Homo sapiens: one gene and its partner. The protein of the gene in region 2 interacts with the protein of the main gene of each other region in a biochemical or structural test. Each region holds a gene or a part of one and is shown on either strand. Other genes may lie near its edges.

Region 1 (3,500 bases), on a different chromosome or scaffold from region 2:
AATGTCCAGAATAGGCAAATCTGTAAAGACTGAAAGTAGATTCGTGGTTGCCTAGAGTTGGGGGATTTGGGAGGGAAATGGAAGGGGGGCTGCTAATGGGTACAGGGTTTCCTTGTGGAGTGATGAAAATGTTTTAAAATTTATTGTTTTGATGAAATATATTTAGTTTGTTTGTTTGGAGACAGAGTCTTGCTCTGTTGCCCAGGCTGGAGGGCAGTGGCATGATCTTGGCTCACTGCAACTTCTGCCTCCCAGGTTCAAGCGATTCTCCTGCCTCAGCCTCCCGAGTAGCCGGAACTACAGGTGCACACTGCCACACCTGGCTAATTTTTTTGTATTTTAGTAGAGACGGGGTTTCACCGTGTTGCCCAGGCTGCTCTCGAACTCCTGAGCTCAGGCAATCCGACCACCTTGGCCTCTCAAAGTGCTAGGATTGCAGGAGTGAGCCACCACGCCCAGCCTGTGAAATATGTTTCAATAAAGCTATTATAAAAAAGGTATCATTTCTATTCTCAATTACTACTTCAAATCTTCTGTCCAAGAAATTCCTTTTTATCCTTGGTAATAACTATCTAACACTATGTTCACCTAGACATAACCATCCTTACTCTAGTGAAAACTTTTGTGTGAATGACCATCTGGTGTTGAGTGTATTTGCTTAAAGATAACATCATATTCATGTAACTTTTACAATTCTAAAAAATATGAATAGCAAATACAAACTTTGACAGAGCAGAAAACCTGTAAGAATTTAAATATACCAACAGTGTGCGACTTTTTTTTTACTGAAAAATAAATCAGAAAAAAATGAGAATGCATGCTTCCTATATTTCATGGGGCTGAAGCAGATATGCTAATATTACATTTTAATAGGGACTTCTTGCAATGCTGCAGTGAACACATTCTCTGTAAAGAATTGCAGGTTACACAATAATATGTTAACGCATTCTGGAAGGGAACTTTTTCTTCTTACCTATTCAGTGCAAATGCATAATGAAACTTCACATGGTGATGGGAGGCCAAATCAAAGGTTGGCAGTTTTTCTAAAGTCTCTACCAGCTTCACAATAGAATCATAGTCCTTTCAAATTAGATGAGAATAGCACAGAATTAAACCATTAGGAGAAAATTCTCACAATAACGTGTCTTTTGACAACCAGATATCTGAATTCAAGAAACACATTAAAAAGACACTAGAATCCACAGAACACTTTGAAGAACCTAGAATAAACAGTTTTTGTTGTTTTTCTTCTAAAAGGTTTAGATCGTATATATAAAAACATTAGAAACATACAGTTACCATGTTGAACAAAAACTAAAAAAGCAAAAGAAACAAAAACACCAAGCATGATAGTGCTCTACTGTCTAAATATGGGTGATTTATTTCCCCATAGAGCCAGATTCCCGGTATGCAGTGTTCTAACAATTTCAGGGAAATAAAAATGTCAAGGACATGAGGCAATGGGTTGAACTTCTGTTACAAGTAGCAACACAGTTTCATGTCACATGAGTAAGCACTCTAGCCACAGGATCCTATGTGCCACAGCCCTCCATGGATGTGAGTCTGTCTTGAGCACATGAAGCCTTTACACAGACCTGAAAGGCTAGGAATGGAAAGGAGAAACCAGATGTCATTTAAATTTTACTATTAAAACCTAAGAGCAAATCCCTAACTTGGAGAGGATTTTATTCCACTTACCCTATTTTTAAAATTTTAAGACATGTCAATAAAAATGATATAACCTGTTAGTGTGTTTTACATTACATATTTTTAAAGTTATTTCTGTAGGTAATCAATTACATATTTTTTCCTTCAGGCGAGTTAGATTCAGCACTATCAATTTCAAGCAATACAATTTCAAGGGATAAAAGGTATGTCCAGAAAGCTCTAAAAATGTCTGCTATTTGCCAAAACAAAGCTTTCACTGACAGGTGTGCCTGAGGCTAACAGTAGAATAGACTGTGTCCACAGGTTCGCTGTGCCAGCAGATTTTTCTTTTTGTTCTTTTGGAGGAAAAAGTCAGGCCTTTACCATACAAGTCTTTCACAATCACTGATGGTTAACTCACATGAGTCTTTTTCATTCATCATAAAATTATAGGATGGAAAGCTTAAGAGAGTCAATAAAAAATTACGTGTAGTAACATGAACTGCTTACCAGCAAACTGAAATTTGAGGTTAATACTCCCTTATCCCTCCAACATGCTACACAACAAAGATTTCACTTTAAACATCTTCTCACCTGGATATCTCTGTAGGAAAGTAACAGATTTATGACAATATCTGCTGTCAAGACTTCGATATTATCTACTCGCTGCCGAATTCTTGCCAACTCAGCTGCCAATTCTTTACCAGTGTATAAATTACGAGCTTTCCTGATGTCATTGAGTATAGATTCCCGGAAGTACTGGCTGGTAAAAACACACACATTTCAAAGAGTTTGACATTAGAAACAATTTCAATGAAAAGCAATAATTTTAATAAAGACATGAATGATATTGCAGCATTAGCTATAAAGCATTTGTAGTTTTCAGTTCATTCAGATGCCTAAATAAATATCTTACATATCTGGCATTATTAAGAAATTTAGAAGCCAATGTATTTCTTTTATTACTCTGCCTTCAGAAAGAATTAAAGGTAAAGGTACTCCATATTAATAAATTTTCCTGCAAAAAACCACTTAAAATGCCAAAACTTTGTTTTCCATTTTACTGTTTCCAGTACAAATTGTTCTAAATAAATTAGATGTACCTATGATTTTTTGTTTGTTTGTTGTTTTTGTTTTTGAGACAGAGTCTCACTCTGTTGCCCAGACTAGAGTATACTGGCATGATCTTGGCTCACTGCAACCTCCATCTCCTGGGTTCAAGCAATTCTCTTGCCTCAGCCTTGTGAGTAGCTGGGATTACAGGTGTGCACCACCACACCTGGCTAATTTTTGTATTTTTGGTAGAGACAGGGTTTCGGCATGTTGGCCAGGCTGGTCTCGAACTCCTGATCTCAAGTGATCTGCCCACCTCGGCCTCCCAAAATGCTGGGATTACAGGCATGAGCCACGGCACTGGCCGTGATGTACCTATGATTTGAACATAATATAACCTTAACTTCCTGACTCAGCCTATCATTTATTAACATAAATAATTGTTCTTCACTGAAAGAACAATTAGAGTTAAGAGTTAATTAAAGTTGAATTGTTCTTGCCCTTACACTAGAAGTCCCTGGACATTTATCCTGGTATTGTTTCTGTACTTGCTTTGTATATATTTTTAGTTCTACCATCACTATAAAGCGGTTAGTAGACTTTTTAATTTTTTGCTGATTTCAAGTTGCTGTTCTGTGAATAAAATGTATTATGTGGCATCTATTTTATCTACTTGGAGGATAATAAACATTTTCCCCCTAGTTCTTAGCTGTATACTGATATCTCAGGAGCACCTGATATCATGCACAAATAAAGATGTAGAATAACACTTTATTGTCATCACCAAATGGCATTATTAA
Region 2 (3,500 bases):
AGCACTGCGGGCAGAAGGACAAAAAGCAGGGACAACAGAATCATTCATGGGGGTTTCAGACTCAAAACCAAGCCATTAATATCAACAGAAACAATGTCTACTCTTTGGAGCTATTTATAAAATTGTCTATTTATGTTTGAAAATATGTTGGCAAAAAGCATAGGGCTTTGGAGTCAGCCCAAACCTGCTCTTGGAGTTCAGCTTCTCCAGTACAACGTGCCTGAGGTAAGTCCCTTAACCTCTCTGACCCTTAATTTCTGCATCTGTGAAATGGGGACAACAGCACATACCATACAGAGTGCTGGTTGGACAGAATGAAACAGGAATCATATACAAAAAAATACATCAAAATTACTGAAAGAGGGCCGGGCGCAGTGGCTCTCACCTATAATACCAGCACTTTGGGAGGCCGAGGCAGGAGGATCACTTGGGGCCAGGAGTTCCAGACCAGCCTGGCCAACATAGCAAAACCTCGTCTCTACTAAAAACACAAAAATTAGCCAGGCATGTTGTCACGTACCAGTAATCCCAGCTACTCGGGAGGCTGAGACATGAGAATTGCTTGAACCCAGAAAGCAGAGGTTGCAGTGAGCTAAGATCGCTCAATTGCACTCTAGCCTGGGTGACAGAGTGAGACTCTGTCTCAAAAAATAATAATAATAAAGTTATTGAAATAGAAGAAGTAAATAATTTTAAAAATTAAAAACAAAACAAAACAAAAAACATTGTGCTCAGAGGCTGGCTCAATAAATGGTAGCTTCTTTAACAACTGGACAAATAAACACTTTCACATATATCTACTTGCCCAAGAAATGAATGAGATTTAGGAAACCCAATATTCCCCAGTATAATCATGAAGCCCAAACTGGAGAATCAGCAGCCCACAGACTCATTACAGAGGTCACAGCACAGCTTCCATCAAAGGCCTTGGTGGAAAAGCAGCTGGAATCTTGTGAAGCAAACAAATATAGTGTTAGGGGAGAAATATATTTATGGTAGAAGAGAACAGAATGGGCCGGGCATGGTAGCTCATACCTGTAATCCCAGCACTTTGGAAGGACAAGGCAGGTGGATCACCTGAGGTCAAGGGTTCGAGACCAGCCTGGCCAACATGACAAAACCTTGTCTCTATTAAAATACAAAAATTAGCCGGGCGTAGTGTCAGATGCCTGTAATCCCAGCTACTTGGGAGGCTGAGGCAGGAGAATGGCCTGAACCCGGGAGGCGGAGGTTGCAGTGAGCCAAGATGGCACCACTGCACTCTAGCCTGGGCAACAAAACAAGACTCTGTCTCAAAAACGAAAAAAAAAAAAGAGAGAGAGAGAGAGAGAACAGAATCACAATCAAAGAGATGAATCATAGAAGAGTAGAAGAAAAGAAGGAAAAAGAGAACCAAGCAAAAATGACTTAAGGGATCCTCAAGAGTCAGGCCTATTTCCACCACACCCCCACCACCTCAATACCTACAAAGCAGTCAACAGCTACAAAGCAAACATCATGAAGAATAAGGAGAAACTGCAGAGCCAGGATGAAGTTGTTTAATGCACAACTTCTGGTGGACTCAGAGATAATGCTGACTTAGTCTTTGCTGTTTTAACTGAGCATGTTGCCATGGCCATGGCCAATGGCAGTGCTGTAGGGTCTAGGAGAAATATGCCTTGGGATCAAAATGTCCCTCAATGCAGTTGCTCTATGCCTCAAACAGATATTAAATTCTTCCTACAGTTAAAGAGCTAGGAGTGGGTAGGTAAAAGCAAGCCCTGGGCGCTAGGAGACAGGGACAGGCTGTGGCCTAGAGGGGCAGCAGGAGCTGTCACCTGCAGTGCACCACGACCGGCCCTGCATCCATGATGCTCTCCTGCTTATGGTGCACCTCCTCCAGGAAGTCCAGCACGCCCCCAGGGTCGCTGGGCACGCCGTGGTCCGGCCAGGTCCGAAAGTGGTATTGCCAGACCGTTCTCTCCGTATTCCCCTGGAGTAGAGCCAAGAAAAACCAGAAAAGAATTAAATAAATCAAGAGGTTGAGGAATCACCCGGTTCTAAGCTTTCCTAAATCCAATGGAGAGGAAGAGAATCTCCCCAGGTTCCACTGAAAGGTCCTCTTCGTGAGGTTCCCAGAACTCGTCTCCTTTTGGGCAATCCTGGAGGCAACTCTTTGCCTCTGTCATAAGAACCAAGACGTCTGGCATGGCAATTTGTTCTTTCAGGTAACTATACCCTGAATCATCTCTCTGAATTACCAGCGACAGGTAACATCCCTATTCCCCTGCATCCCTGTGGCACTCAGCTCTGGAGGCAACTGAAACCTCTAGGGATCCAGGTCTCTCCTCCCAGCAGAAGAGGAAGCAGATGGGGAAACAGGCATTCACTTAAGACATTCATTCCTCTTTGTTATTTTTTTGATACTCAACCTTCCCCACCATATAAACACAGACTATAGTATCATTCTTTTTTTTTTTTTTTTCCAAGACAGAGTCTTACTCTGTTGCCCAGGCTGGAGTGCAGTGGCGTGATCTTGGCTCACTGCAACCTCTGCCTCCCGGGTTCAAGCCATTCTCCTGCCTCAGCCTCCCAAGTAGCTGGGATTACAGGCACACATCACCATGCCTGGCTAATTTTTGTATTTTTAGTAGCGATGGGGTTTCTTTCGCCATATTGGCCAGGCTGGTTGCAAACTCCTGACCTCAGGTGATCTGCCTGCCTCGACCTCCCAAAGTGCTGGGATTACAGGCGTGAGCCACCCAGCCTGGCCAGTATTGTTCTATTTTAAACTTATATTTAATGCAAAGCAGATAAGAAAACAGGCTTTGCTATCAGATGACTAGATTTAGGCTCCAATTCCAGGCACTCACACTCACGTGGCCCTTGGGTATCTCTAAACCTCAATTTCTTCATTTTGCAAAATGCAAATAATAATCTCTTTCTCTCTATCATAATGCAATTTTAAGGACTCAGTGAGCTCGCTGAAATACTCAGCCTCTGCCCAGCAAATAGGAAGAGACTCAGCACATTATGGCTATTTTGAGGATAATGATAATTAATAAAGATCAACAATGGCACCAAGGCTACAGAAAACCAAAAAGTATCATGTTTCTGGGTCTATCCAGATGACGTAATTGTAGCAGCACCATTCATTCCTACATCTTCTTCCTATATATGTAGAGACAATCTAAGCTAAGTGACTTTTTTTTTTGAGACAGAGTCTCACTCTGTCATCCAGGCTGGTGCACAGTGACCTGATCACAGCTCACTGCAACCTACGCCTCCCCGATTCAAGCAATTCTTGGGCCTCAGACTCGACTCCCGAGTAGCTGGGACTACAGGCATGTACCACATCCAGCTAATTTTAGTAGAGAAGGAGTTTCGCCATGTTGGCCAGGCTGGTCTTGTACTCCTGACCTCAAGTAATCCACCCACTTCAGCCTCCCAAAGTGCAGGGATTACAGGCATGAGCCACTTTGCCCAGCCTTAAGTGACATTTTTAAAAGGGATGTAAAAGG

Evidence for each region. Proteins that work in one complex are often made in the same cells at the same time.
Region 1: of the proteins of PTPN11 (region 2) and MAP3K5, one has a biochemical effect on the other in vitro, tested with the Homo sapiens proteins (one study listed by BioGRID).

The regions. Positions count from the first base shown.
Region 1 is NC_000006.12:136,694,978-136,698,477, forward strand, and holds part of MAP3K5 (mitogen-activated protein kinase kinase kinase 5), read right to left. Parts: intron 2,411-3,500; coding exon 2,242-2,410; intron 1,081-2,241; coding exon 974-1,080; intron 1-973. UniProt on the Homo sapiens protein: Serine/threonine kinase which acts as an essential component of the MAP kinase signal transduction pathway. Plays an important role in the cascades of cellular responses evoked by changes in the environment.
Region 2 is NC_000012.12:112,484,947-112,488,446, reverse strand, and holds part of PTPN11 (tyrosine-protein phosphatase non-receptor type 11), read right to left. Parts: intron 1,985-3,500; coding exon of another isoform or gene 1,973-1,984; coding exon 1,818-1,972; coding exon of another isoform or gene 1,814-1,817; exon of another isoform or gene 1,524-1,813; intron 5-1,523; coding exon 1-4. UniProt on the Homo sapiens protein: Acts downstream of various receptor and cytoplasmic protein tyrosine kinases to participate in the signal transduction from the cell surface to the nucleus. Positively regulates MAPK signal transduction pathway. Dephosphorylates GAB1, ARHGAP35 and EGFR.